Homo sapiens: one gene and its partners. The protein of the gene in region 6 purifies or fractionates together with the protein of the main gene of each other region. This does not show direct contact. Each region holds a gene or a part of one and is shown on either strand. Other genes may lie near its edges. The genes, in order: VANGL1, SH3BGRL, ZC3H14, VANGL2, SIRT2, RP9 and MMAB.

Region 1 (3,806 bases), on a different chromosome or scaffold from region 6:
GATACAGTGCAGTTCCAAGTGCCATAAGTGTATGTACATATAGTTAATAATGACACTGTTCATCACCATTCTAAAATACTGTTCTTCCAACCCTATCTTCAATGACCAGTCCAGAAGGGGTTAAGCTGGATTCATTTGCTCTGGCATGTGCATTCCCAGCAGGGTGAAGAAAGGTTTAAATTAAAGAATTTATTTTCTCTCTCCCCCTTCCTCTTTCTCCCAGTCTTTGCATAGGAGAATGTTAGACATTCAGAAATTACTGTTTCTGTTTTAAATTGAGTATTGATTTTTTTATATTGACTTTGTATTGAGTTCTTTTTGAAAGAATAACAAAATAAAATGCAGGATCTTTGTAAAGCCTTTGCACTTTCAACCTCTTTATAGCTTGAGTTACTTTTGCAGTGGGAACAATGTAAATGACATTTAAAAGATTTAAGGTTTCAGAAAGCTGCATCCCACAATTGAACACAATGCATTTTTATTTCAATTCTTGGAACTGGTAGGCTATTCTTTTTAAAAGGGGGTAAACTTCGCCCTAAGGCTGGTAGAATGTATGTTCACATTATAGTAGACAGGATTTCATTTGCCTTATATGTTTATAGATTTTTTATAATTTTCATCCTACGTTATTAAAATTAGAGCATTGAGTGTTAAAGAACTTAATGAGGAGTCTATATCTGAGATTGCTCTCTTCCCTGGTGATGTTTTAACTGGTAGATAATTTGTTCTTAAATATGTACTTTTGAAGATAGGACAGTTTTTATAGTCCATGAACTGAATGTTAAAAAGTTCTGTATGCATTCTCAGAGAGGATTTTAAAGCTATATAGTTCATCCATCCTTTGCATTATCAAAATGTTAAGTCAAATCTGTAATACTTTGGCTAAAATTCATAAAGTAAGCCCTAGAGAAAATACTTGACCACCAAATTTTTGCCCAACTATCATCACCTCCCTTCCCCCGCCTCTGTTCTTGCCTTTTGACATCTACATGGAAGACAAGTTCTTTACAGCAAATGGTAAGAGGCAGGTGACCTGGTGTGTTTGCTGTGTTGTAGTTCATTGCCTGGGGCTTGGGACTCCTTTTTTAATGGAGAGACTAGCTGTGCAGGTGTGTGTTGGATAGGGATAAAGTGCTCACCCCTGCCCTCTCTACAGTAGTTGGTGGTAGATTTCTCTCTCATTTTGCCTCATAATCACTTTCGAGTGCATGTATTTACCTAAGGGCTGTAGCTCTGTGGGATGCTACCAGCATATTGGACTGACAGAAATTGATTACCTTGCCACTCCAACCTACGTACTGAGTGAGTGCTCCAGCCACTCAGTGAAACCAACAAAAGTGAGTCCTTGGTTTACCTTCCAATCTGGGTCCTGCTGTGTAAGTATCCCTAAGTGGGGATGCATATTTGTTTGTGCGTTTTTATTTCCATATATGTGAGCATTTCTCTGAGTGTATTACCAGACGGATAGCACATTTATATGTCAGACATCTTAACATCTGTGTTATCTGTAGCAGGTGTGTAGCTCAGCAGATACGTGTCATTGTGTATATAGCTGAGTGTGTGAGGGTGTCTGTGTTTCTGCAGTCCCCTGTGTTTGAGAGATGACTTAATAACCCTGTGTTTTGAGAGGTCGCTCTAAACCAGTGACTTTTCCCTCCCCTGCTTTATTCCTTTCCCTCACTGACACTGGCTTCTCCCGCTAGAGTAAATGGCTTTAGCACAGCACTGTCTTCTGGGGAGCCTGCTGTCCTGCAGGCAAGTCCATTAAACTCTTTCTTGCTTTAGGACTCTGAAAACAGCAAGAAACAAACAAACAAAGGTCAAGCTCTAAGAAAATTACTGCTCAAACTTCACTACCCTGGAAGCCTTACTAGATATTTCTTAAGGTAACTTAAAAATTGGGCTTTATTTTTAAAAAGTGATAGGTTACTTACAGTAGCACAGAAATGTTAGCATATTTATTTAAATAGTCCTGCAGCAGAGACCCTGCGATTGTAAAGTGATTTAAGTATTTCTGGGTAGTGTTTGTGATTTACGGATTTGTTACTGAAAAACAAAAAAATCACTACTGTGAATTTACTACTATGTAACCTTGTGGTCGTATTTCATTATAAATAAAATAAGAATTGCTCTTCTGCCCACCGTTCTTGATTGGTATTCAGTGCAGTAGCGAAATGAGATAGTTTAGACACTGTTGAAATAACTGCATTGAGCTTTAACCAAGTGTATGCTCAGAAAATTCAGTTTTGGATCACATTTTGACAAAACATGTTTTGGTCAAAGAAAGGAAAGGCTACTAACACATTTATCAGGTAATGTATGTCACAGTCCGTGTTCCACCCAGCCTTGTTATCCCCACATTCTTTCAAGATAGGAGTCATCTTGGTTTTTCGGGTGAAAAACGGAAGGTCAGAGAGGAAGGGGCTTGTCCAAGGTCTCATGTCTGGTTAACAGAATTTCAAACTAGATGTTTGATTCTAACCCCTCAGTCCACTGTACCTTGAAGTATGGTCTAAATGATTCGGCACTTCTGGATGTTGAGGAAGGACCTAGAGACACATCCTTGAACTAGAACCTGGGGTGAGAGTTCATTGGGAGGCAGGATCTCTTCTTTCACTTTGGATTTACACCTTGTCCCTTGGAAAGCTTCTCCACTATGCTAGCAAATATCTTAGGATATTTGATGGAAAGAACTTGAGAATCCCTTCTGGAAAACCCAGCCTTTCAGTGTTAACACCTGCTGCAAGACAGGGATGCTGTTGTTCTGGCAGCCCCCCTTTGCTTTTGCCTGGCCCCACCTTCTGCTCCCACTCTGCTGGCTTGGGCAAGATGCGTGCCTTGGGCCTTGGGTGCAGGGAGGCAGGCAGGGGCTTGACCTGGCCTCTCTCTGGTGCCATGGCAACATTATGCCCCAAACTTCTTCCCTGGTTGGAGTGAGAGGGGCTGTCCACAGCCCCATCCTGTGGGGATCTCAAGCCGGAGTCCCTGGCCTGGCCTCCTTGACGTAGGTGTTCTCAGCAAGCAGTTTGCATCCCACCGTCTTTCTCACACTTGCCCCCAAGACTTTTGACAGAGCAGACGTAAAACAGGACTCAGAAAACCATTTTTCTCTGTTCCCATATGTAGTAAGTTTTGATTCAGTTGTGCATAAACCATAGTTTTCTGCCCTGCTGTTTGCTTTCAATGGAAGACAGTAAAGGGAAGATGGTGCTCACATCTCTCCATGTGACATCTCATTAGGAATTAAGATGCGATGGATTAGAAATGTAAAACTTCAGAATAAAATTAAATTTCAGGGCTCTATAAGTCCCGTTTTCCCAGGTCCTGTTCCGTTTCTACGTAGATAACCCAATTTGTTTTGTCTATGAAATAAGCCTCTTTAGTGGGTTGTTTTAGTCTCTCCAACAAAAGAGCAGATTCCTAAAGCCAGGTGCAGCACTGTGAAAAGTTTCTTTCAATATGGCACCAAGACTCTACCATTTATGTCTCTCTCAGCTTACAAACATCAGCGTTTTGTCCTTGTCATAGTGGAAGAAAGACACTTACTTTAAGCTTTGGGGACAAAGGTGACAAACCCCAGGCTTTTATCTTAAAAGTGTCTTTGGCACTTCTTTTGGCACTGAAATGGTATTTGGGAAGCATTATTTGAATGTACAGTTGTTTGGTTTTGTATGTGCTTATCTTTATCTGAGCTTTCACTTGTAGACATGGCCTTTTGTTGTGAAGTTGCTCATCATTTAGGAGTGTTTAATTCTAAAAAGCCTTCAGCCTAAGAAAGCTTCATCTGTGGGGACCAGAGACTTGTT
Region 2 (4,930 bases), on a different chromosome or scaffold from region 6:
GATGCTGCTCTGTCTGGATTGCAGATGCTGCAATCTAGTACTCTATCTTATTTAAAGAAAAGTGCCTTACCTCACTTTTCTTATGGCTCAAATTGTACAAAGCCTAAAATATAAGATTTTATCCATGGGAAAAGAAAGTTCGGCAAGAAAACCATTTTACAATGACATGAACACAGTACTAGTAAATTTTTGTCTAGTGAAAACAGACAATAACACAGCCTTTTAAAATAGGAGAGGGAATTGGAGTTCAAAGAATCTGTCTAACATACAATTAGTTGCTAAGAGCAAAACATAAAATGACAGAGCAAGAGACACGCATTTTGATTAAGGCAGTTTGTGTGAAGAACTACTATAAAAGGCAAAGGTATGTTTAAAGTTGATAGTTTGGGGACATCTCACTAGACAGGCAACTTTATTGTTGCTTTCTTTATTTGGTCTCTCCTGAAAATGCTGCTACTTAAAAAATTAATTTGTGTTGGCAGGAAAAAAGCCTCAAATTTGGCGAGCAATTTAGTGACCAGTTTTGCAATGCAGATGCTCTTAATTAACTTGAATGGATGACTCTATCATTTGCTCTCACACAAAGACAATAAGTGCTGCCAAGGAGATTACCATGAACTAAGATGCTTACTGTCGATGTAGAACCATGCAGGACAGCTGGAATAATGAAGGCTTTAAAATTGCTAAGCACTTATCTGTGCATAGGTCAATGAGAAATTTGCTCCCATGGGCAGCTTGATGGGGAAGTCACTCTACCTACCTGCTAAACACATAGTTTATGCATTTGGTTATGCACATCTTTCTGCCCTAATAGGAATTAAGTGGATGCAGAGAAGGCACTTTTTGCTATAAAGGATTGTCTCTGACTTAATTTGAATACTTAACAAAAATGAAAATCTTACTGATTAAAAAAGTTCAGCAGCAATAAAATGACCTATAAAACAGGAAAAAAAGGGTATCATACCTTTGAACCAGGTGGGGCTGTCAAGCCTAAGAAGGCATACACTGCATTATTTTCTCTGGCTTCAAAGAAGGCATCATAGTCCTTGATGAAAAGAAGATAAGATGAATTAGCAATATGCAACCAATAAAAGAAAAAAAGGAAATTTATTCAGCCGAAAGCAGTGGCTCACGCCTGTAATCCCAACACTTTGGGAGGCCGAGGTGGGCGGATCACCTAAGGTTGGGAGTTTGAGACCAGCCTGACCAACATGGAGAAACCCTGTCTCTACTAAAAATACAAAAATTAGCCAGGGGTGGGGGCACATGCCTGTAATCCCCGCTACTTGGAAGGTTGCGGCAGGAGAATCGCTTGAGCCTGGGAGGCGGAGGTTGCAGTGAGCCAAGATCACCCCACTGCACTCCAGCCTGGGCAACAGGAGGGAAACTCCATCTCAAGAAAAAAAGGAGATTTATTCAGAATGACCTGACTGGTCGACAGAATCATCTACCTCCTTGGGGACAGAGAGACTAACTTCCATAATACTAGAATTCTGGAAGGAATAAGGAGTAATAAAGAGGCAAGGCTTCTGGATCTTATTTAATATAGGTTGAAAAGTATGCTATTCTATGTCACAAAAACTGCAGAATGATTTATTCCACATCACATGGAATTTAACTCTGCCTGCAGCTTCCTCCACCATGCAAAACAGCCACCTATTTCCCAGTAAGAAGATGTTTATTTCTGGTCAGACACTGTTGTTTCCATTCACCATATTTCTGTTCCATTATTCATTTAGGTTGAGATTTTCTCAGAGCCTACAATAGACTAGATATTAGCTAGACATGCCCAAGGCCAGAAGAATAGTTAATCTTTGCTGTGTTTTGAGAAAGGCAATGAGATGTCCATGATGCATGACCAGAAGAGCAACCAAACTGCTAAGAGGTTTCAACCTGGGGAATGCAAGAGAATCTTCACATGACTAAATTTGGTTGGGATTCCTACTGTCATCTTATAAGCCACAACACATTCTCAAAAAGTAACAAATAAACTTTCCTAAATTTGGCTGTGATGCATAATCAATAGCAAACATATTTAGAAAATGTAGCCATTGTCTACATCCAGCCTTTGAGTGGATGGAAAGGACAAATGACTATATGCAAGAGATATGACTATATATATGCAGGCTTGGAGGCAGAGGTGAAAATAATGGATAGATTTGGGGCAATCTATTACAATAAACAAGAATTTAAATTGTTTTCTTACCCCGCGATACTGGCTTTCATTGAAAATCTGAGGTGGCAGGGGGTAACCTGTGGCTGGTCGACTATTTTCAGGTACATTTTCTCTCATCCACTTCCGATTCTCTTCATTGGCTGCAATATCTTTTTCTTCAAATCCTATTTTGTTGGCTTCTAGGAAACCAAGCACATCTTGTTGTTTCTTCTTAATCTAGGACCAAAGGACAAGAAACCGTATTTTCCAAATTCAACAAAAGTCAAATGTTTGTGAGCTGGCAGAAATGAATTCAGACAGAACAAAGATTGTGGTTTCACAGAAGTTATATGATTTTCACTCTTTATTATTGTATTGTTAATAATGCCTCACAAGTATATTGAAGAGCTTTTGGTCCACTGGTCCTTTTATCAAGTTGAATTTCTCTTTTTTTTTTCCATTGAAAATTTTCATTATTTAATGATGTACATGCAAAACTAACTGATGCATATCAATATCTAAAAATGCAGTTAACTCCAAATTATGTGCAGTGAAAAGTTATGTTTTCTGATACTCTACAAGCCTCTCTTAGTTTCAGCCTTTCAAGAAAGTTTTTTCCAAATGATGCGTCTGCTTCCCATCTTAACAAGAATTGTATATGCAATAGAAATGAATCTTTCCTTGACAAAGTGCACAGGCTTCAAGAGTCATTCAAGTCTCAATTTTCAGTGTTCAAAACAGAAACTGAACAAGAATATATTAGCTAATCCTACAAACTATAAAGTTTGCAATATATCTGTACCATTCATTAGCCCTTATCATGTGCTGCTAAGGTATCTTTTATGTGTATTATGTATTAGGTTGGTGCAAAAGTAATTGCAGTTTTGGTCATTACCTTCAATAGCAAAAACTGCAATTACCTTTGCACCAACCTAATATGTTCATCTAGATAACCAGGTGGAGATGGCACATGTATTCTGTCTCCTTATCATAGCTAGAAGAGAGCTTTGAAAACAGTAAAATTAATACTATTCAGTTCAGTTTCTCTTCCGACATGCATTTCTTTTAGAACCTGTATTCACACATCAATGGTAATTAACCCCTATTTAAAACCATAACTTAACATTTCTGAGTTATAGGACCGTAATCAATAAGCAAGTTTCTTCATGGAATCACATTAAAATAAAGACACATGGAGTGTTGTCATCAAAAAATAAAATAAAATAAATCTGTCTGCCAATGAGAATAAAAATGCAAAATAAGAAACTCACAATCAAGTCCCTCTCTGGATTTACACCCCTCCATCTACCCCCACATACATGCATATATGCATAAAAGTTGTGTTTTTGTCTTTCTAAGTTGCTCGTGATTGTGATTAAATAATTTTCTCTCTCATCACATAAACTCGGGAAAATAATTCTCAATTTCTCCCAAAAGAAACGGAAAGTTTTCAATGCTATTTAGATTAGGGTACTGAATGTCCCTCTTTAAAGATCAGTTAGAATCTAGCAAAACTTGCTACAAGGTAATTTTTCTAATGGGAATTCTGTTTTTTAATTGGCTTATAAAATCAAACTTTCATTCCTAAATGTAACATATGCCCTCTTTTGAACTGAGAAAAATCAATGTAAAACTCAATAAATAGGAGTGCCTAGTGGACTAATGCACTTGATGAAAGGTTCCATTAAATCAATGGTTTCAATTTCTGAGGTACAGTAGGTGGGTTCAGTCAATGTCAATTGTGTCAAGTAATTTGTCGATCATTAGCATATTTACAAATTTGAGTAGATATAAAGATGTCCTATTAAGACTGTACTTTCAAGGCTGGGCACGGTGGCTCTCATCTGTAATCCCAGCATTTTGGGAGGCTGAAGCAGGAGGATTGCTTGAGCCCAGGAATTCGAGACTGGCCTGGGCAACGTGTGAAAACCCCATACTTTGAGGGAACTTGCATTCCAACAGATTTTTTTTTTTGAATGAGTGAAGAGACATGCTAAGAATTTTACATACATGACCCTGGCAGAATGTCATCAGTCACATTTGCATGAGCAGAGGACCTTTAAGATAAATTATTTTTTGAGGCTTTTCCTACCTTATTGAATGCTTACTTTGTCGAGAACATGACTCACTGTGCTAAGTTAAAATGGTCGCCAGGCCTGGTATCACTAGGCATGATAGTGTACCTTCACTGAAGTAATTACTCTCCAGCCATCAGTTGGAGAGTAATGACCAAGTATTTCTCCCATGCCCTGAGATTGCCTGATGACAAGTACACATACCTACTAGTGTGTTCTACATCTCCATAAAGCTGAACAGAATTGGCCATAATCACACTTTGCTAATAGGTTCTGCCATGTCAAATATGAACTTTTGTTCAGCTTTGAATCTTCAGGGAAAGTTAAAAAAAAATGTTTCCTAACTTGATCAAATTTTCAAGTCCAAAATTTCACATATTAAGTTTATTTCCAAGAAGGAATCTATTCCTTTAATTTTTTTTTTCCAAGATAGGGTCTTGCTGTTTCACCCAGGCTGGAATGCAGTATCATGAGCTTGCATCACTGCAGCTTCAAACTCCTGCACTCAAGTGGAGATTTCTAATATATAAATAATTATTGCTTTTTTTTTTTCTGAGACAGAGTCTAGCTCTGTCGCCCAGGCTAGAGTGCAGTGGCGTGATCTCAGCTCACTTCAAGTGATTTCTTCTGCCTCAGCCTCCTGAGTAGCTGGGATTACAGGCGCACACCACCAAACCCGGCTAATTTTTGTATTTTTAGT
Region 3 (4,930 bases), on a different chromosome or scaffold from region 6:
TTGTTTCTTTGGAGATTCCTACTATAAAAACACTGTATTTCTATTGCCTATTATCAATATTTGCCACTTTCTCATGAGCCCTTTTAGACTTTTAAAATGTTCTTGTCTTTTATCTTCAATTTCTCTGAAGATGTTTTAATTTTATTTATTTTTAAATTGCTGTTTTCTGTAGCCATAAGGTTTTGCTATGTTGCCCTGGCTGATCTTCAACTCCTGGCCTCAAGTGATCCTCCCGCCTTGGCCTCCCAAATTGCTGGGATTACACGCATGTTTTATTTTATTAAGACGCACTAATTCTTTCGAGTTCTTTCTAATTTAGTCTTCATTTATTTTGAGACACAGTCTCACTCTATCGCCCAAACTAGATGGCAATGGCATGATCATGGCTCACTGCAACCTCAGCCTCCTGGGCTCCAGCAATCCTCCCACCTCAGCCTCCCTGGAGGGCAATGGTATGATCGTGGCTCACTGCAACCTCAGCCTCCTGGGCTCCAGCAATCCTCCCACCTCAGCCTCCCGGGCTCCAGCAATCCTCCCACTTCAGCCTCCCAAGGAGACAGGACTACAGGTGTATACCTTGCCCAGCTAATATTTTTATTTTTTGTCGAGACAGGGTTTTGCTATGCTGCCCAGGCTAGTCTCAAGTGATCCTCCTGCCTCAGCCTCCCAAAGTGTTGGGATTACAGGCATGAGCCACTGCACCCAGCCTCAAAGTTCTTCTGTTTTATGTTTTTCTTGGCTTTGTCTTGTATTATTTAAATAATGTCTTCTAGCTCACTTTGAAATTGTATTTCTTTTTGGTATACCTTTCAGCATGCTTTCATTGAAACAATGCTGTTTTGTCTTTTATTCCCTTTTATCTTTTAATTCGGCACAGGACTTGACCTTGATACTTTTCTGTTGTTCATTTTAGGGGAAAGTTTGCTTTGGATAGCTATTCTAACTTCAGAATCAACAACCTTCTTCTGTTGATTTTGTGATGTTAAAAAATATGGCACCTTGCTTTGAGATTTCCTATTGTTTTCCTCTCCTATTTTTATCTGACATTCTTTCCTTTTCTCTATTGTCTGTTTCCCTGCTCCATCTGATTCCACTCCAAGACTCTCACGTAGAGTCCTGTGTTTGAAGAAAACCTTGGTGCAACACACTACAGACTCCACAGGGAGTAGACCACTGCAGTCCTTTTAGATCAGCCTCATCTGCCACTGCACTGAGCAAAATCCCTCCTCAGTTTCAGCTCCTCTTCTCAATTTGGCCCATTCACATTTTCCAATTGGTACCTATCTGCTGTTTGGGGACCAAACAGGTCTTGTCCTCAGGCCTATCAATTATCAGAATAGTATATAACGCTGTCATGGCAAACTGAACAATACAGTCAAAAATTTTTAAAGAGACACAATGAGGAAACAAATACAGAATTGACAATTCTGAAATCATAAGGTTTCATGAAACCTGGAACAATTTAAAGGACAGTTTTGAAGAAATGAAAAAATATATTCCAAGGTTCTTGAAAAGTATGTGAGAAATAACATAATAAGCATATAGATTTTTTTGGTGGGGTCTTAAAATTCAAATCTTAGTAGAAAAAGAAACAGAAGAAAAAAGAATCCTTCTTGACGACAAAAGAGACAAAAGGTCTGAAGAGTCATGGAGAAGGGCTGTGCAGGCCCAGGGGTCAGATAACAGACACCAAAAGTCCAAACTAATAGCGTTAGTTCTGGGTAATGAGGAGGAGGGGAGAGATACTTTCACAAAGGAGTCAGAAGATGAGAGACACACTTTCAAAGTCAAAAGATTGTATAGGAATTGGGGGAGAAAGCTGAGAAAAAAGCAAAAAAAAAAAAAAAAAAAAAAAACCTGGAAGCAAACTGAAGTATGTTAGGCACGAGGGGATAAATTAGGGTTGCTGGGACACATATGGGAGGTCAGAGACAGGATGCTTAAGAGACGGGAGATTTAAAGGTAACTAAAATTTCAAGTTCAGGTAAACGGGCAGGATCAACAAAAAGAGAAAAAGAAAGAATGCAGAAATAAATATATCTTTAAGAAGGAGCTATCTAAAGACCAGCAAAATTCTGATAATAACTAAGGCTTAATGACTGGGTTCATGAGAGTTCACTGTACTAGCCTTTCCATTTTTGAGAATATTAAAAATTTCCACAATAAAAAGACTTTCAAAAATTTCTAGAAAGGGCTGGGTGCAGTGGCACACACTTGTACACACCTCCAGCTACTAAGGATGCTGAGGCAGGAGGACTGCTTGAGCCCAGGAGTTTGAGGACTGCCTGGGCAACACAGCAAGACCCTACCTCTTTAAAAAAAAAATTTTTTTCTGAAGTGTTGGTATGAACCTTCCTCATGGTATTCTTCTCATTCTATTTCTGGGCTTAATCATCACTTTTTTCATAGTGTAATATTTCATAAAAATCCATTGGAAAATATTCAATGCCTCATGAAAAAACTGTAGTAAAGAGTGAAACATCATTTAAGTTATTACCTTGATTTTTTTCTACAGAATCTCCTTTTGTTTCCTCTTCTTTAATGGGGGGACTTATTCTGGGGGTCCTACTTTGTCCCTGGACCACTTCTGCTAGCAATTCTTCTTGAGAAGTTCGAGTTCTGGGAGCAACTGGAAGTGTCTGTTTCTGTGGAACTTTCACATAAAAGCAAAAAAGATAGAAATACAAATGCAGTAATACGTCAAAACTCCACAGTGACTATGTCATATTAAATATAAATGCCTCCTTTGGTTTAGGACATATGAGTTCAGGCTGGGCGCAGTGGCTCATGCCTGTAATCTCAGCACTTTGGGAGGCAAGGTGGGTGGATCACTTGAGGTCAGGAGTTTGAGACCAGCCTGGCCAACATGGTAAAACCTCGTTTCTACTAAAAATACAAACACTAGCCGGGCATAGTGGCACACACCTGTAATCCCAACTACTCAGGAGGCTGAGGCAGGAGAATTGCTTAAACCCGGAAGGCGGAGGTTGCAGTGAGCCGAGATTGCACCACTGTGCACTCCAGCCTGGGCAACAGAGTGAGACTCTGTCTCCAAAAAAAAAAGAAAAAGAAAAGAAAAGAACATATATATGAGGAGTTCAATCCATAGATACCATTCATTTTTTCTTACGTTACTGAGATAGATACCTGAACCTATTTATCCAAACATATGTAAACAATATCCATACAACCACATACCATGAATACAATATAGTACATATGTATTCATTTTCAACAAAATGCGGTTTATTTAAGCTTAGCTTCATGATCTTATATGAGTTTCAAATTGTAATTTAGATAACCTAGGTAAAGAAAGAAAATTTCAAAGTCATGGAACTTCTCTAAACTTCTCATCATTCTAGACAATTAATATTGCTGATAGATCAGGAAATGAAATGTAGATATATCATTAGGTCAAGAGTGCGCCTTTGCCTGATAATCTTTATTCTATATGCCAAAACCTGTTGAATTTTGTGTTCAAGGTTAAATTAGGGATGAGGAGAACCAAGAGGACAGACAAGTATCAGGATCAAAAACTGATGGTGCCAGGCGCGGTGGCTCACGCTTGTAATCCCAGCATTTTGGGAGGCCGAGGAGGCAGGTGATCACCTGAGGTCAGGAGTACGAGACCAGCCTGGCCAACATGGTGGAACCCCGCCTCTACTAAAAATACAAAAAAATTAGCCTGGCATGGTAGTGGGCGCCTGTAATCCCAGCTACTTGGGAGGCTGAGGCAGGAGAATCGCTTGGACCCAGGAGGCAGAGATTGCAGTAAGCCAAGATCACACCACTGCACTCCAGCCTGGGCAACAGAGCAAGACTTCGCCTCAAAAAAAGAAAACAAATAAAAAAACTGATGGCTACAGTTTACCTCATTTTAGGAAGGGGGGTCACAAAAAAAAGCGAGAGAGTGGATAAGCAGGGCAATGCTGTAAGTACACCCACCAAATCCACAGCAAAACTTAAATCTTTTTAGAGTAGCTCATTACCATCAGCTTCTTAACACAAGTTTACACATTGGCTACAACAGGTCGGCCAGAGAGTACAGAATTTGACAACACAAAATGACACCCATCAGTTGTTTGCATTTCAGAATCAGCTTTCCGTAAGACCAGCTTACAGCTGATTCATCTCCTGTTTTGAAAACGTAATACTTTTATATTCTCTCATAAAATTATTCAGTACTTCCACTAGAATTGGAGCAGGAACATCACAAATGAGTCAATTCTCTGCCTTATATTCTACTAATGAGTTCCGCCAAAAGGGAAGAAACCAACCTTGTTTATATACTACTGTTTAACAAATTTCTATAACTTCAGATACCTATCATTGTCCAATTGTACTCCCCTTTACACATCGTAAATTCATATCTAATGTTGAATCTAATGCTACTAATATGAAAGTCCTACTTCATCAAAATTCTCTTCAAAATATTTACGTACTATATATTTTACACACATTGGAAAGATATAAAAGGCATTATATGGTGCTTGAAAAACTACAGTCCAATAACAGTTGGCGAAGTTTCTCAAACTTGTCAATTTCCTTTTAAAGCCATTTTTCTATATGGGAACCTCATCTTGGTCTTGACATCTGACAGGCACCTTTATTTTACAATTTAAGGAGCAATCATTTTCACCTTACTCAAGAATTACAGAAATGTCTTACCAAGTGTAAACATAATACATTTAAATTACCTGTAGAGTAGTTAGTTGTTTTTGTTACGGATTCTTGAGCTTCAGATATAGCCTTCAAAATCAGATTCTTGTTAGCTTGTTTAGAAGGTGGAAGAGAAGGTCTAAAAGAGTTAAGAAAGGTATTTTTATTAAACTTTAAATTTCAGTTCCTCACAGGCCAGCCATCTATTATGCCTTTACCACAACCTTCTCTAGGTTTTAAACAGACTAGCTGCAGTTTTTAGAAAATGCCA
Region 4 (4,930 bases), on a different chromosome or scaffold from region 6:
TGTATTCTGCTAGGTATAAAGTGGTATAACAGACCCTGAGTTTACAGTCTAGCAGGGAAGGGGCACACCAAACAAGTAAGCAGATAAGTATAAACGACCGATTGCAGGCATGATGGAAGGGCAGAACAGCAAACTATGAGAGACACCCATGGAGTAAGGGCTACCACTTTAAACTTAGCGGTTCTAGAAAGTCTGAGAAAAGGACACCTCAGCAGAGGCCTGAAGAAGAAATAGGAATTAACCAAGCAAAGAGTGCAGGAAAATGCCCATGGAGCAGAGGAATCACATGTGTGAAGGCCAAAGGCAGGAAAGAGCTTGTTGTATTTAAAGAACCAACAAAGGCCAGTGGAGCTAGAGTTGAGGAAGAGAGTGGGTGGTAGAAGGTGGCACTGCAGAGACAGCCAGGCACCAGGTGAAGAGCTTGAGCTTTATTTTATTCTAAGGCCACAGGAAAACTTTGAAGGATTTTAGCTATGCAGATATGGATTGAAAAGAGGGAAAAATAGAAACAGGGAGATCAATAAGGAGGCGACTGCAGTAGTACAGGCTTGCTAAGGGTAGAGCCACAGAAGAGTGAGTAACAGTCATGTTTGAGACTTAATGTTGGTGGTCAAATCAACAGGACCTAATGAGCGGGAAGGGAGAGTTAAGAATCCCCGGCCTGAGCAAGGGAGCAGATGGTAGCACCATCAGTAGGGTAGGGAAGACTGGGGAGGAAGCAGCCTTGTGAGGGAAGATAATTAGTTCAGCTTCTAGCCTGCTAAGTTAGTGGCCATGAGACAGTAGGCAGCCAGGTGTCAGACGAGCCAGACTTGGAGGACAGTCTGAGCTGGAGGTACTGAGTGTGTGAAAAGCTATGGGGATAGATAGAACTCAGATCCAGCTGAGTTCAAAACCTAACTCTTCCATGGACATAAAGGACCCCAATAGGTAGACATGTCCAGAGGAAAAGGAGCAGGCAAAGGGGATGAGAAGGCCAGAGGAGGAGGGGAGCCAGAAGAGTGGGGTCTCAAGGCAGCCAGAAATTTAACAGTGTTTTGAGGTGGGAATTAAGTCAACCAGGTCAAATGCTGCTGAGAGGCTGATTATGTTAAAAACTAAAATGGGGCCGGGTAATCCCAGCCTGTAATCCCAGCACTTTAGGAGGCCAAGGCGGGTGGATCACGAGGTCAGGAGTTCAAGACCAGCCTGGCCAAGATGATGAAACCCCGTCTCTACTAAAAAGCATGGTGGCAGGTGCCTGTAATCCCAGCTACTTAGGAGGCTGAGGCAGAGAACTGCTTGAACCTGGGAGGTGGAGGTTGCAGTGAGCCGAGATCATGCCACTACACTCCAGCCTGGGCGACAGAACGAGACTCCGTCTCAAAAAAAAAAAAAACCTAAAATGGATTTGCTTTGTATCATTACCTTTACTCCAACTACTCTAAACCATCAGTAATTTGAGAATAAGCAATATGATTGATACATATTTATATCCATCTCGCCTCCCATGGGCACAGAGCAAGGAACTGATACCAACCTAGTAAATGAACATAGTCATGCCTCGCTTAACCACAGGGATACTTTCTGAGAAATGTGTCATTAGGCAGCTGCATCCTGGGAACATCATAGAATGTACCTACACAAACCTTGACGGTATAGCCTACTACACACATAGGCCTTATGGTATAGCCTATTGCTCCCAGGCTACAAACCTGTACAGCATGTTACTGTACTGAACACTGTAGCCAACTGTAACACAATGGTAAGTACTTGTGTACCTAAACATAGAAAAAGTACAGTAAAAATACAATAGTATAATTTTATGGGACCACCATCATATATGTGGTCCATCGTTGACCAAAACATCCATGACTGTATGCCTCTCTGGCTCTCAGGGAAACTATAATGACTGTAGGGAGATGAAAGCATGTGAAATCTATTCATTCATCTTCTTAACAGAGTTCAATGGAGGCAATCCTCCATAGGATTAGTTATATTTGTCAGTATCCCCATGTCAAAGCACGTGCGTGATAAGGACACACTTAGAGGACAGGGACATAATACCTTAACCCAACCATAAGCCTTTCCAAAAAACTTTGCAGCAAAAATGACCCTTATTTATCCCCCTACCTGAAAAATATATGTTGGGCTCATCTACCCACTCTCCTGAGGACCCATTCTACTGGCCTACTCCTCCTTATAGTTTAGACATCTGACCTGCATTTCTCTTGTGGTTCCAGCCTATTCTTTCTAGTCTTCTTCATAAAAACTGAATTTTGCTAGGAGGCTCAAAGGCAACGAGTGGGTCACAGAGTGACATGGGGGTAGAGAAGGGGGTGGAGAAGTAAACAACTGCCACGGACTAGAGTCTAGACACACACACTAGATCCCAGGCTGTCCATCTCCTCATCCTCCTGTATACCCATCATCTGCCAAAGCCAACAGCCAGAAGAGCCAGAGATGTGCACTCAAAGATCTGAGTTCAAAACCTAACTCTTCCACTGACTAGCTGTGTGACTATGTGCAAGTTACTTAACACCTCTGTGCTTGTAGCCTGGTAAGCTCATTAGTAAAATAGTGAAGACAATGATGCCTTTTCATGGGGTAGCCGTAAGGATCACGAGGGTGAAAGAAGTGCTTTTATAAATGGTTCAGCTAGTAATTAGTTAAGCAATTAACAAGTTTTAGCTCCAGGATCACTCATACTCCAATCCTCAGACACTTCCTCTGAGACTAGGGAAAGAGGTGGTATAAATAAACCCTGCTGTTAGTACAACTAAATAAAGAAGTCTCACACATACACACACACACACACACCAACCAGAACCACCACTTCAAACACACCCAGAAGGTAAACTGATGCCATTTCATTTCCCCTACAGATAAATTTCAAACCAGACAAGGGTACCAGTCCCCTTTTGTTCTGAGCTGCCCAGCCTAGTGCCCCCTATCTTCCTCCCCTGCTACTTACTAAAGACTCAACATGAATCCTGCTCCCCTGGCCTGCCAACCCAAGTCAGAGTGCCCAAAAAGCACCAAAACACGCTTGTCTCCTCCCTACCAAACACAGGTGCCAAAAATGAACCCGACTTCTGAGACCCTTGCCTGCTGTGTCTTCAAGTACACCAGGGAACTAATCCAAGCACTGCTGCTGGGGGGCCTGGGAGGAGGGAGGAGAGGGGAGTAAAGAGAAGGGCAGAAGTTCCCCTTATTTAATCAGTCTCAGGGATCAGGGGTTTGGAGGGTCCCCTGGGTGGGCAGCGTTCCCAGGGAAGAGATGGGGGGAGGGGATGGCTGGATGAGATCAACAAGTGGAAACGTCAAGAGGGATGACGAGACAGGGAGGGAAGTCCGGACTTGGTGCAGGACAGGGAGCTGCCCTAGTCTGGGGAAGGGGGAGGCTATAGAAAAGGAATGTGCCCCACTGCCTTTCACCTTGCCCCCCACTTCCCAAGACACAAACACACACACTCAGTCCCCTGCTCAAACCAACCATGGATTATCTGGGGTTAAAATGAGGCCAGGGAGGAGAGAGGGAGAGAAGAGAGAGCCTGTTACAAAAAGGAGACCCTTCTCCCCTCCAAAGGCCTTTCAGAAATAAAATTAATGGAATGTGTCTCAGTATCATCCCAAGGGGATTGGGGGGGAGCTTGGCAGGGGGGAATGTGGGGGCTTTTGTCCCTGCTGCCCAGCTTCTCCCACATTGATCACCATGGCAACAAAAGCCCCCTGTTGCCTAGGTGATGGCAGCCGGGTCCTGGAACCCATACCCAGCATCCAAAGGGAGGGAGGTTATGGAGGTGGGGGCAATAGGGACAGAGGAGGAGAGAATGGGGTTTCTCCTCTGGCGGCCCCAGCTTTTGTCTGAGCTCTGGGATCAGGTTTCTTCAGGAAACAATTGGAGGCCTCTGGAAAAAATACACTCAGAACCTGGCAACAGGCAGAGGGAGCAGGGCCCTAGAGTAGTGCGTGCGTGCGTGCGTGTGTGTGTGTGTGTGTGTGTGTATAAGGGGGGTGGGTGTTGGCCAAAACACAGACCAGGGCGGACCAACCCTTTCCCATTTCCCACTCAAAGGAGGCGGCTCAAGTGGGCAAGGCGTTGAACACAAACGCCAGCACCCCCATGTGTGGCGCGTGCTGGGGGCCGATGACCAGACGCAGGCAGCTCCAGACGCCACCTCCTGCCACTGCTCTAGCCCGGGCCCACCCCGCAGCCCAGTCCCGGCTACTTTAGGCCTGGGGTGAGGTAATGAGACAGAGCATAGATGCAGACGGGGCTGGGAGAAAGAGCTGTGGAAACCAGGGTGAGTAGGCCACGGAAGAAAAGGGGGGCAGGGACAGAGCAAAACATGTACCTAAAAAGGGCACCTAGTGTTCCTCATCTCCACCGAGGACAGGGCTGGAAGCAGCTGAGAAGGGTGCTTGGGTTTGATTTTTAAAAGACTTCCAGCCAGACGGGAAGACGATGGGAAAGAGGACAAGAAGCCTCAAGTTCTCCTCAGACAGGGGCAGAGATCTCTGATAGGACCATTTTTCTCTCCGTAGTCAGGGACTAGGGAAGGGTGGTTCTGCCTGAACACAGGGAAATGGGTGTGATTACTGCTTCAGAACCTGCCTGAAGAGTCGTCTGTGGGCCCCTGCCCACTAAAGGTCTCCGATTCCTACTCAGGAGCCTGGGTCTTCCTGCATATGCCTTGCACCCCTTTCCCACTGCAGCCCGTGGGCAGGGGTATGCATGTGGGCACCCCCTAGCTGCCTGGCTCCCTAATCATCACCATCCATAGTGCCAAGGTCCAAGGATATCAATATAAGTTCCACTCAAAGTGCTGGAAGCCCACCTTCAGCCATGGAGGTGGCAAGAACTAAGCCCAGGGTCCAACCTCCCAGCCCAGGATCCCAGGAGCTAGCTCTCCGTGCTAGCTCAGAGTACAGTCAGAGTACCTCACCA
Region 5 (3,709 bases), on a different chromosome or scaffold from region 6:
TTGTTTGTTTGTTTTTGAGACAGAGTCTCACTCTGTCGCCCACGCGGGGAGTTCAGTGGGTGATCATGGCTCACTGCAGCCCAACTGCCTGATTTCCTGTCTTTGGCTGTTTTTAATATATGATAGTAGGCCAGGAGCAGTGGCTCACACCTGTAATCCTAGCACTTTGGGAGGCCAAGGCGGGCAGATCACCTGAGGTCAGGAGTTCAAGACCAGCCTGGCTAACATGGTGAAACCCCGTTTCTACTAGAAATACAAAAAAAAAAAAATTAGCCTGGTGTGGTGGCATGCGCCTGTAATCCCAGCTACTCAGGAGGCTGAGGCAGGAGAATCGCTTGAACCTGGGAGGCGGAGGCTGCAGTGAGCTGAGTTCGCACCATTGCACTCCAGCTTGGGCAACAAGAGCAAAACTCTGTCTCAAAAAAAAAAAAAAAAAAAAAACAAGAAGTCACTTATTCCACTCATGGAAAGCCATTTCTGACATTCTTTATGCTGATTTAACAAAGCCTCTGGTGTCCCTGTGAGATAAGGACAGCTGCAGCATTTGCAGAAGGGCCTCTGGAGTGTGGCTGTTCTGATAAAATGCCAGCTGAGTGCCCCTGGGCTGAGGATTCCTGAATAGCCCAACTGCAAGCAGCTGGGGGCAGTGTACAATTCACATTACCCCCATTATGTGTCATTGACAGCAGCGTCACAGGCAGCACCCACGGTGTCATGCTGTCCATGCAGAAATATTTTAAAGAAAATTACCGACTACTGACATTGAAACAATGCTTTATAAATGTGTGCTGAATGAATGAATGGACAGTTGAGCAAATGACTTAGAATTCAGTGGGTTGCAAGTGACAGAAATGCTTTCTTTCTTTCTTTTTTTTTTTTTTGAGATGGAGTCTTGCTCTGTCACCCAGGCTGGAGTGCAGTGGTGCAATCTCGGCTCACTGCAACCTCCGCCTCCCGGGTTCAAGCAATTCTCCCTGCCTCGGCCTCCCAAGTAGCTGGGATTACAGGCACGTGCTACAACCCCTGGCTAATTTTTATATTTTTAGTAGAGACGGGGTTTCACCACGTTGGCCAGGCTGGTCTCAAACTCCTGACCTCAAACGATCCACTCGCCTCAGCCTCCCAAAGTGCTGGGATTACAGGCGTGAGCCACCACACCCGGCCAGAAATGCTTTCAAGCTTCCTAAATCAATAAGAAATAAGGCCAGGCACAGTGGCTCATGCCTGTAATCCCAACACTTTTGGACGTCGAGGTGGGTGGATCACTTGAGCCCAGGAGTTTGAGAACAGCCTGGGCAACATAGGGAGATCCCATCTCTAAAAAAAATAAAATGTAGCCAGGTGCGATGGTGGATGCCTGTGAGCCCAGCTACTCGGGAGGCTAAGGCAGGAGGATCACTTGAGCCTGGGAAGTCGGTGGTGCAGTAAGCTATGATCACACCACTGCACTCAACCATGATTGCACCACCACACTCCAGCCTGGGCAACAGAGTGAGAACCTGTCTCAAAAAAACAAACAAACCAATAAGGCCGGGCGCAGTGGCTCACACCTGTAATTGCAGCTCTTTGAGAAGCCAAAGTGGGCAGATTTGCTTGAGCCCAGGAGTTTGAGACCAGCCTGGGCAACATGGCGAAACCCTGTCTCTACAAAAAATACAAAATTTAGCCGGGCGTGCTGGCATGCACCTGTAATCCCAGCTACTCAGGAGGCTGAGGCAGGAGGATCACTTGAAGCTGGGAGGTTGAGGCTACAGTAAGCCATGATCGTGCCACTGCATTCCAGCCCGGGCAACAGAGTGAGACCTTATCTCAAAAAAAAAAAGAAAGAAAAAAACAAAAAAAATGCAACAACAAGAAGAGAGGTCTTTTCTGAGCAGAGTGGACACCTCAGGAGACACCCATCACACTCCAAGTGATGGAGGTGTGTTCATGTTAACAGTGGAAGAGGGGTGGGGGTGCTGCACCTCCAGACTCCGGCCCAGATCCTCTTACTGCCTTCTCTTTCTTCCCCTTCCCCATACCCAGAGAAGATCTTCTCTGAGGTGACGCCCAAGTGTGAAGACTGTCAGAGCCTGGTGAAGCCTGGTGAGCCTCTGGCCAGGGACCTGCCCAGGTGGATTTGGGTGGGGGTCCCCTCCTCCCCCTGACCCCCTCCCAAAGGCCACACCCGCACACATCTGGCCACCTCTGTCTCTCTGAACAGTGCCCCAGATCCATCCTGGGGAGAATGGGGTCTGTGCCCCTGGCCGGTCCCCACTGCTCCCAACTCCCACTGTGGCCTCCGGGTCTGCCATTGCTCCCACCTGTCCTCTCTGCCTCCCCATGTCACTGTCTCTGTCCGTCCATCTGTCTCCACCTCAGATATCGTCTTTTTTGGTGAGAGCCTCCCAGCGCGTTTCTTCTCCTGTATGCAGTCAGTAAGTGGCCCCCCAGCCTCCCCGCATCCCCAACCGCCGCCTCCACCTGTGCTGGGCCCCATGGGGGCAGCCTGGGCCCTGCCTCAGGAAAGGTCACCTCCCCAGCTATGGGGGGCGGCAGGGAGGTTTGCTGCTGGGGGCGGGGGAGGGAGCGGTGGCGCAGCCTGGGCGGAGGCTCCCAAGCTCACGCCCCTCCCCGCAGGACTTCCTGAAGGTGGACCTCCTCCTGGTCATGGGTACCTCCTTGCAGGTGCAGCCCTTTGCCTCCCTCATCAGCAAGTAGGTTGGGGGCTGTGGCTGGGAGGACGGCTGGGCACCCAGGGCCAGGACAGACCCTGACCCCTTAGCTCCCCCTCCCCACAGGGCACCCCTCTCCACCCCTCGCCTGCTCATCAACAAGGAGAAAGCTGGCCAGGTAAGAGCCCTTCTTCAAGCCCCCGTCGTCACAGGCTCCCCCTTCCCTCTCACCCTTTTCCTCAGAGGGAACCCCCACTGTGGAACCCCAGCACTTTGCATTCCTCAGCTCAGAACCTGGGGCTCTAGAATCCAGAGGGGTCGGGTTCCAGGCCTCTGGGACATTCACTGCCCTTTTGAGCAAGTGATAGAATTCCAACTCAAACCAGCTGAAGCCAGATAGGAAGGCCGGGCTTCCAGGGACTGAGGAGGTGGGAGGGGGTGCAGGGGTCAGGAGAGACAGTGCGGGGGGCGGGGTTGGGTCCACGCTCTGGGTCTCTCAGGTCTGTTTTTCCTGGGCAGCCTCACTCTAGGGCAGGTGCTCCCTCCTAGGTGTTCCCCTCAGGGGAAGTAGGCAGGGTCACCGGGCAAGCAGCGCACGCTGTGGGCAGACACTGTCCCAAGTCTTAGCCTGCGTGAACTCACTGGCGCCACAACCCCATCGCGGTTTTGTGATCACCCCTATTCTACAGGAAACTAAGACACAGAGAGGACAAGTCACTTGACCAAAGTCACTGAGCTGGCTGGGCGCAATGGCTCACGCCTGTAATTCCAGCACTTTGGGAGGCCGAGGCGGGTGGATCACCTGAGGTCAGGAGTTCGAGACCAGCCTGACCAACATGGTGAAACCCCGTCTCTACTAATAATACAAAATTAGCCGGGCATGGTGCTGGGCACCTGTCATCCAGGCTACTCGGGAGGTTGAGGCGGGAGAATCACTTGAACCCAGGAGGTGGAGGTTGCAGTGAGCCGAGATCACATCATTGCACTCCAGCCTGGGCAACAAGAGTGAAACTTTGTCTCAAAAAAAACCAAAAAAACAACAACAAAAAAAAAAC
Region 6 (3,984 bases):
CTGCACTCCACATATTTTCACAATTGAAGTACCATGTTTACTGCACCATTCCTCTAACACTAGAGTGGTTTTCTCCAACTTTATATAATTTTAAAACTTTAAGGGGATATTGTTATCATCAGGACGACCTCACCTTACGTCCTTTTCATGTCGTTTATTGTCTCGTATGATGTCATACATGGGATCTTCATGTGCCTTAAGGGTCAGAGAAGGTTAAGGTTTGGTTAGGCTTCATGGATCACAAGTTAAATACAATGAAATGCCTATGTTATGAAAACCAGTTTATTTTTTTTTTTACTGTTTGATGTAGCTGCATGTTCAACATGTTCTAGGTCACATCACTGAAAACTCATTAAGGCTAAAAAATGGATTTTCCAATTAGAAAAATACAGGAAATGGCTACTCTCAGCACACTGTCTTTGGGGTAGCCCTGCTCTGCAGGAGCAATCACAGAGCTATAACACTGCCACCTCAAAAACAAAGAAAAATACAGGGAATAACTGTCATCTAAAGAAAAAATATACGGACACTTTAATCTTACAGTTTAAAGACATGTACTCTTTAAAGACCGGGAAATTAAATCCCTGATTTCAGTCATGAAACATGACTTTTTTACACAGTAAATTTTAAAAAGTGCGGTTGAATAGATAACAATGTCTGTTTCAGAAAAAAAATCACTGTTCCAAGTTACAAACAAAGATCACTTTAATAAGAATTCCTTTTTTTTGTAAAAGAGCTAATTTGTCATACAAATGTAATTTAATAAGCATGTAGTTAACAGCACACACTTTGGTCAAAGGGCTTCTGGGAATGTATTTTATGTGACCATTCAAGTTCACTGGTGACTTTCTGCTTCACTGATTTTCACTATCTCTGATAAATGTAAATTGACACTCTTGGACTTTACTTACCACTCTGAACTGCTCTAACTTTTGGTTGCCTTTGATAAAGAAAGGGCATTCTTTGTCACCCGTTCGGTGACCATAGCGTTTGCAACGCCAACCTAAAAACGAAAAGAGAAATATTTCTGTAAGATAACAGTTTCACCTACTCAAGATAAAGAATCAGCAGAATATATTCAAGTTTTTCTTCATTAAACTCTAATTCTAAAACAAAATATAATTATGGACAAGCCATGTAAGATCCCAGAAACAGAGGTAAACTAATTGCTTCCCCAAGCATCCTTTAGTCTTATACCTTTAGGAATAATATTCTATCACCAAGTATTTATGAAGCAATCCAATGGAGAATTACTTCAAAAGGTGAATTTTTTTTTTTGAGATGGAGTCCTGCTCTGTCGCTCAGGCTGGAGTGCAGTGGCGTGATCTCAGCTCACTGCAACCTCTGCCTCCTGGGTTCAAGATATTCTTCTATTTCAGCCTCCTGGGTAGCTGGGATTACAGGTGCGTACCACCACACCCAGCTAATTTTTGTATTTTTAGCAGAGATGGGGTTTTGCCATGTTGCCCAGGCTGGTCTTCAACTCCTGACCTCAGGTGATCCGCCCGCCTCAGCCTCCCAAAGTGCTGGGATTACAGGCGTGAGCCACCACGCCCGGCCCAAAAGGTACATTTTTTTTAAAGTGTGTTTCAGTATATTTTTCAGAGTAAATGTTTTCATAAAGTATCTCTGCTTCTCATTTACTATTTTAGACACTATAAAAGCTTCTTTCTCAGGTTGAGTCTGTTCAAAACTCTCACTTTTAAGTAAATAAAATCACAAGTTCTCTTAGAATATTAATGGTGGCTGGGCACAGTGGCTCCTACCTGTAATCCTAGCACTTTGGGAGGCAGAGGCGGGTAGATCGCTTGAGGCCAGGAGTTCGAGACTAGCTTAGGCAACATGGTGAAACCCTATCTCTACAAAAGTACAAAAAAATTAGCTAAGCCTGGTGGCGCATGCCTGTAGTCCCAGCTATCTCAGAGGCTGATGTGAGATCACCTGATTCTGGGAGGTTGAGGCTGCAGTAAGTTGTGATCACACCACTGCACTCCAGCCCGGGTGACAGAGTGAGACCCTGTTTTCCTGACCCTGGTAGAAGGTTGTTTAATGTGTGGAAAAGGTAAAACAGAGGGTCTCTGGCCAGGGAGACCAGGGAGACATCAGGTAGGTCTGAAGGAAGCTGCTGCAATAGCCACAAAGGGTCACACGAATGAATGAAAAGCAGATGGACACATTTCCAGACTCCCTCCACTCGGCTCCCAGAACACTCATAGTATGGCTTTCCCTCCACGTGGGAGCCTTCTCTGGGAAAATATAACCCACCCAAAGAAGAAAAACCGATAGATACTGAACTCTGAGGCACGTTGTCTTTGCTTTTAACAAATAATCAAGGCAATGAAGCATTCCCATCAAAATTCTCAAGGAAACTGATTTTTAAATTAGAATTCAATATCCTGGTAGTTAAAAATCTGTTAAAGACGATTCCAGAAAAGTAAAGGTCTTAACATTTTTATCTTCTATAAACCCATTTTGAAGGTAACAGCCATAGGATTTGTTACACCATAAGGAGAGAATATGATAATAAAGAAGACTCAAGACACAGGAAAATGGGTGATCCAACACGGGAGAGAGGCTAAGGGGACCTGCAGAAAGATGGTGTCTTAGTCAGCTCGGGCTGACATAACAAAATGCCGTATTCTGGGTGGCCTAAACAACAGAAACTGGTTTTCTCATTCATTCTGTAGGTTGGAAATCTGAGATCAGGGTCCCAGCAAGGTGGGTTTGTGGTGAGAGCTTTCTTCCTGGCTTAAGATGACAGCCCTCTTTCTTCTTCACATGGCACGGTGGTGGGGGGTGGGGTGGATGCTTCCTTATCTAGAAGATGGAGAACGTGCCTTGGCTGTAAGAGGGCTGTGATGAGAACAAGTTAAATAAAAGAAGTAAACACTCTTTGTAAATTGAGGCATGTAAGTTGCATGGATTAGGGAAACTCTCCCACACTCACACTGCATAACTTTGACTTCTTTCCCCAGTGGCATCCAAAGTCCTTTAGTTGGTGCATGAGCCAGAAATTCCCTGGCGTGTTCATTGCCTGGTACATCTGGTATGCAATCTTCTGGCTTAGTCTCATCTTCCTAAAAAAGGGAACAGGTATAAACAGCATGGCAAGAGCGCTGGGATTCTCTCCTGCTCCCCTTGGAGCCACCCTTGCCTGGCTTTTTCCTGGGCTTCCGGTGCCAACATCATCTTAGTTACCCCTCAAAACTAGAAAAAAAGACAAGTTACACCTGATTGAAAAAACAGGAAACAAATGTACCAGAAGAACTATACCAAAAACAATGTAGCTGTTCTTAGAGAAAAGTTACTGGTGAAGCAGAAAAATCTGTCCTTATATAGCAATGACTGGGGAGCTCCAAATAAGATTCTGAGATTAAAAAAAAAAAGTTTCACTACCTCAAAATATAGAATTAAAGTAAACCAGGCTTCCTGGAATAATAGAAATGGCCTGTTATGCTAGAATAGTTTATTATACCCTGAAGGCCCTGTCATGTTTTACAGTCACACACATGCTATATCTCTGATGTACATTTTTACCACTCAATAACTGCATTTACAATTAATGTGTTTTCAAACTTTTGGATTTTTTTCAAGTTTCTATGAATATTAAATTTACAATAGACTCATGTTTTTAAAGAATATTTCTTCGCTGAGAGTTATGAAACAGCAAGTTTTCTTGGCCGTGGCCTGCCACTCTAAGTCTCCCTCGTGCACACACACCCTGGCACCTTGGCCAGGGAGCTGCAGGAGGGATGCCTGTACCAGGGAGCGGGACTGGATAGCTGTCAGATCTCCTCAGAGTTTACTGCTCTCTGAGCTGCTGAGCTCAAGAAACCAGCAGAGGATGGACCGAGGGGCTGAGCCGGGTGAGGCCGACAAGGAAAAGGAGCTTAGAGATGCCATCCCCAGCAAGAGAGAAGAGGGGCATGGCCAAGGAATCCACGTGGGCCTGCACTGGTTCTTCAGGGAAGGGAAACATGGCTG
Region 7 (4,344 bases), on a different chromosome or scaffold from region 6:
TCCAAATCTTGTCCGCCTTCCCCTTTACAAATGTGACATTTAAAGCACCTTTGGCACAGGTAAATCACAATTACATTTTCAAGGGCCTCTGGTCCCATTCCAAATCTGTGAACAACCTGAGCTGGCAGTGGGAGGGCTCTCTCTCACACACACACACACACACACACACACACACACACACACACACACGGCTCCAGCCTTTCCAACTTTTATTCCTTTTCCGCACAGCTCCTTCTCATTGCAGCAATCACTTTACCTGTCTTTCCTGCAATGCCAATTCATTCCCACATCCCTCCAAGACCCAGGAGAGCTTGGGGAAGCAGGGTCAGGGACAGAATCCCCAAAGGGTCACAGTCCCTTGAGGAAGGTGGCAAGAGGTGTAGATCAAAGCTGAGCTGGGACAAAAGGCTGCTTTGAGCCTCTCTGGGTGAGCTCTTCAGGAACCAGGACCCCAGAAGGGCAAGCTCCTCTCTCCACGGCCATCGCCATGGAGGGATCCTCCAAGCTCCCACTTTCTGTGATTTCAGAGTCCCTCAGACTCGGCCGATGGGTCATTTTTCATGTATATTTTCTCTTGATTCCCCTCCTTCATGGCTGCATATCTGGCTAGCGTGAAGAGATAGTCACTGAGTCTGGAGGGGCAGAGAGAGAGAAGCAAACAGAATGGTTTGAAATGAGAGATCAACGCTAACTGGGTCTTCCCATATCCGCCTACAAGGAGGAGATATAAATGACGCACTCTGGGCACATTGTGCAGGGAGGGCGGGGGCCCAGCCATCTTGCACTTAATGGATGGCACACGAGGCCAGCTGCTGTGAATGCCAAGGACTCTACTCCAGTGTCAAGGCTGGGGCCATTCCTGCAGGATGAGGCCATTGCCCCGGCCCTACCCCATGGGGCAGATGACTTTGGACTCCTCTCTGAGCCGGTTTTTGCACCTTTGAGTGATCAGGGCTCAGGTGCGTGATCAGTTTGGGTGTTTCCCAAACTACAGTGTGCACAGGCATCACCAGGGGATCTCAGCGACGTGCAGATTCTGACTCAGGAGGGCTGGGCTGGGCTGGGCCCGGGGCTCTGCAGGTCTAGTTCCTGCCCTGGCTGATGCTGACACTGCTGGACTAGGCCCTACTGACATTCTGGATCATTCTGTGTGTTCGGGGCTGTCCTGTGCATCCTGTGCAGTGTAGGATGCTGACAGCACCTTTGGTCTCCACCCACCAGGTGCCAGTGGCACCCCTGCACCCAGTGTGACAACTAGTAATGCCTCCAAACATCGCCAAAGGTACCGGGTGAGAAGCACAGGCTGGAGCACTCTAGAGACCAGAGCCCAGCCCCTTTCCCGCCTCCTCCTTTGAACCAACAGCAATGGTCATCTGTGCATGAGGCCTTCTGCAGGGGCAGCAGTGGAGGGAACTAGAGGACGACGCCACGGGCCCCAGAAGGCGCTTACGCTGTCAGCTCTTCTGCCTTCTGCTGTCCGCACCTTTTGCTGTTTCACTCCCAGCACGAGGCACCACGTTCCTCCCTCTCTCTCTGCCCCAGTCTTGCCCTCAGAGGCCAGCTCCACACCACATCCTCCTGAGTCCTCCCCTGACTCAGGCCCCCTGGGCCCCACGGCTGGCTCTCAGGAAGAGCGAAGGGGAGGTTGTTCAGGGTATTTTACCCCTGGGCCGCATGCTCCTGGAGGGCAGTGGTGTGCCTGTTGCTTGTTGGCTCTGTGAAGCCTCACTGAGGAGATGAAATGGCCTGTCCCGTGCAATGCTATGGGACCGCAGGGTTGCTGCTTTGAAGGTGAAGTAGACCTGCTCCTCACTCCCGGCGAAACCCCCCTCCCAGAAGGAAAGGAGCTGCTCAGGACCCGTCAAAGCGCCATGTCTCTGGGAGGAGTGGCCACAGTCAAGGGCCTGAGGTCACTTTCTAGACACCCAGGACAGCTCCTGGGGTGCAGACCTGCTCCCCCAGCTCTCTACCTGCCCCCAGGCTCTGGCCTTGCCCACACTGATGCCACAGAAGCCAGGGCTGGGGCAGGAACCCGCAGAGCAGGCTTTGGGCCAGGTGTGGCTCCAGCCTCATGGGCCGGCCGCGAGGCAGAGGAAGCCCTCCCTGGGCTAGCCTGGCTCACTGGGGCCTGCATGGGGTCCCCTGAGCGCAGCTTGGCCCGGCTCTCTTGTTGGTTCATGCTGCCGCAGGCCCTCTCGGGGACAGGAAACTGGCTGAGAGAGGGCCTGAAGCCTGGCTCCCTGGTCAGTCACCACCGAGAGGCCTCCCCTGAGCACCCAGCCTCTAAGAACGCCCTTTGCCCCCGCAATGCCACTTTGCACTTAGGTTTTTCTTCCTGGTTTTTACAGCAGCCTCTCCCAATAAGATCTAAATCTTATCGGGACAGGCACAGGGCCCACCTTGTTCACCACTGCCTCCCCTGTGCCCGGCGTGGTGCCTGGCACAGAGCAGATGTTCATAAACACTAAGGGAATGAAGGAGGGGGTGCGGGAATGCTGCCCCACACTGCTTCCCGGACCGCTGCACCGCTGCTACTTCCCACAGATGAGCCTCGGCTTTCAGAGAGGAACCCCCAGGTTCCACGCGAGTACCTGTTTAAGAACTTGGCCACGTTCGCATCGGTCTCTCCCATCTGGACAAGAGGCACCACACTAGAAAGGGAGGAGACACTGAGTCACGTGACATTATGGGGCTCAACAGGCTCTGACCTGGGCCTAAACCTTGAGCAGCATTTCACATCCTGCCACCGCTCAACCTGAACCTGCACAGGCTCGGCCGGCAGTGGAGATGACAAATCCATCACAGGTGGGTTTAAACAGGCCATCGGCCCCCTTTCCACCAGCACATCGCAGGACGGCCTGGCCAAGGAGGGATCAAGGATGGCTGGTGAGTTGAGGGAGCCACCTGGCCTACACCACACCCCAGCCAGCCAGCTTTTGTACCACTGGACCTGGGTCTGGGTGGGGTGAAGTTGGGGTGGTCTGCCTCTAGCCTTCAAAGGAAGTGGGGGCCTGACCCTTAATTCCCAATGGGCTAAACTCTAAGCCCCTTGTACATCATGACTTAGAACAACTTCACAGGGGAGAAAAAGACCCAGGCAGACCAAGCTCCTGATTCCGCAGGATTCTGGATTCCTGGGGTCCATGCCAGTCTATTTGCAGATACATTAGACACTGGACGGCCATCTGCTGGGCACCAGTGTGGTGGCGGGCCCTTGCCGAGCCTTTCCCAGGTATCACCCTGTGGCATACCCCTTGTTGGCAAGCCAGCTACCCAAAGCCCAGCCTCAGGGTTCTCATCCCCACCCAAAGCCATGCACCCGGCTAGCGGCCCAGGAGGGTGTGCACCCAGGCCTGTCACAGAGCTCCAGGCTGTCTCTAGTGGGCACCGCATGCTCAGCGAGGAGCTTCCTCACCCGAGGTGCCCCAGGTGTGTGTCCCCACCTCAGGACAATCTGCACCTTGCCACTGCCATGGCTGCGTAACTCTCTGCTGCATGGAGGACCTATCAGCTGCTCCGCCATGCCTGTTTTCGGGGCCTTTGGGTTGTTTCCAGTTTCTTGCTATTATGAGCACTGCTGATGGATGGCTTTGTACAAATGACAGTTTTTTCTTTTGAAGCCAAAGCTTGTTCTGTTACCTGGGATCTCTAAGGAGCTATCTGGGCCCGAGAGCCTTTCATAAAGAACAAAACCTTAGTGGTGTGGGACCGTGGAAGAGCTCAGGCTTGGCCCAGACAGACGTGGACTCCAATCTGGATTCTGCTATCAACCATGTGGGGGACCGTGACCATGGTGTCATTTCTCTGAGCCACAGCTTCCTGACTCCTGTAAAACAGAGGCCACCACCACCTCTCTCCCAGGGCTATCAACAAGGAGTAAATGAAATTATGAACATAAAGTGCCAGTCCATTGGATCAAAGTAGGGCTTGCTTTCTCTTCTCTGTAAAGCTGGCTGGCAGCCTGGTCTCTGAGTGGTGTAGATAGAGACTTTGCTCATTTTCTTCTAAAGATTCCTTGAAAAGGCTGTCAGTAGCTTTGGAGGAGGTGGTGGCTAGTCTGCTGACAACGTCCACCTGGGCTCCCCACAGCCATGCAGGCCTTTCAGGAGCCTTATGCACCCAGCAGCCAGCAGGGTCCTTTCATGTCTACCCCTGTCCCCAAGATGGCTGAGGCTGAGAACCCAGCAATAACTTCCTGCTGTTCTCAGAATACAGGGCTCACAAACAAGGTGCAATTGTGTTGTCTGATAGTCTATTTGGTCACATGTCACTGTCTCCACTTCACAACATGGTGCTCTGAGGACAGGGACTTGGTCTGTCCTGGTCCCCGTCTGGCACAGTGGA

Evidence for each region.
Region 1: the proteins of RP9 (region 6) and VANGL1 purify together in Homo sapiens (affinity purification with mass spectrometry; one large-scale study listed by BioGRID and IntAct). This does not show direct contact.
Region 2: the proteins of RP9 (region 6) and SH3BGRL purify together in Homo sapiens (affinity purification with mass spectrometry; one large-scale study listed by BioGRID and IntAct). This does not show direct contact.
Region 3: the proteins of RP9 (region 6) and ZC3H14 purify together in Homo sapiens (affinity purification with mass spectrometry; one large-scale study listed by BioGRID and IntAct). This does not show direct contact.
Region 4: the proteins of RP9 (region 6) and VANGL2 purify together in Homo sapiens (affinity purification with mass spectrometry; one large-scale study listed by BioGRID and IntAct). This does not show direct contact.
Region 5: the proteins of RP9 (region 6) and SIRT2 purify together in Homo sapiens (affinity purification with mass spectrometry; one large-scale study listed by BioGRID and IntAct). This does not show direct contact.
Region 7: the proteins of RP9 (region 6) and MMAB fractionate together in Homo sapiens (co-fractionation; one large-scale study listed by BioGRID). This does not show direct contact.

The regions. Positions count from the first base shown.
Region 1 is NC_000001.11:115,693,335-115,697,140, forward strand, and holds part of VANGL1 (vang-like protein 1), read left to right. Parts: 3' UTR 1-3,806.
Region 2 is NC_000023.11:81,274,446-81,279,375, reverse strand, and holds part of SH3BGRL (adapter SH3BGRL), read right to left. Parts: intron 2,393-4,930; coding exon 2,207-2,392; intron 1,046-2,206; coding exon 965-1,045; intron 1-964. UniProt on the Homo sapiens protein: Appears to function as an adapter protein that bridges proteins together or proteins with mRNAs. May function as a ubiquitin ligase-substrate adapter.
Region 3 is NC_000014.9:88,575,708-88,580,637, reverse strand, and holds part of ZC3H14 (zinc finger CCCH domain-containing protein 14), read right to left. Parts: intron 4,799-4,930; coding exon 4,698-4,798; intron 2,654-4,697; coding exon 2,498-2,653; intron 1-2,497. UniProt on the Homo sapiens protein: RNA-binding protein involved in the biogenesis of circular RNAs (circRNAs), which are produced by back-splicing circularization of pre-mRNAs.
Region 4 is NC_000001.11:160,409,733-160,414,662, reverse strand, and holds part of VANGL2 (vang-like protein 2), read right to left. Parts: intron 1-4,930. UniProt on the Homo sapiens protein: Involved in the control of early morphogenesis and patterning of both axial midline structures and the development of neural plate. Plays a role in the regulation of planar cell polarity, particularly in the orientation of stereociliary bundles in the cochlea.
Region 5 is NC_000019.10:38,879,808-38,883,516, reverse strand, and holds part of SIRT2 (NAD-dependent protein deacetylase sirtuin-2), read left to right. Parts: intron 1-2,025; coding exon 2,026-2,085; intron 2,086-2,361; coding exon 2,362-2,417; intron 2,418-2,619; coding exon 2,620-2,696; intron 2,697-2,780; coding exon 2,781-2,832; intron 2,833-3,343; coding exon of another isoform or gene 3,344-3,376; exon of another isoform or gene 3,377-3,709. UniProt on the Homo sapiens protein: NAD-dependent protein deacetylase, which deacetylates internal lysines on histone and alpha-tubulin as well as many other proteins such as key transcription factors.
Region 6 is NC_000007.14:33,096,360-33,100,343, forward strand, and holds part of RP9 (retinitis pigmentosa 9 protein), read right to left. Parts: intron 3,078-3,984; coding exon 2,948-3,077; intron 1,004-2,947; coding exon 912-1,003; intron 196-911; coding exon 134-195; intron 1-133. UniProt on the Homo sapiens protein: Is thought to be a target protein for the PIM1 kinase. May play some roles in B-cell proliferation in association with PIM1.
Region 7 is NC_000012.12:109,556,505-109,560,848, forward strand, and holds part of MMAB (corrinoid adenosyltransferase MMAB precursor), read right to left. Parts: intron 2,652-4,344; coding exon 2,592-2,651; intron 633-2,591; coding exon 524-632; 3' UTR 1-523. UniProt on the Homo sapiens protein: Converts cob(I)alamin to adenosylcobalamin (adenosylcob(III)alamin), a coenzyme for methylmalonyl-CoA mutase, therefore participates in the final step of the vitamin B12 conversion.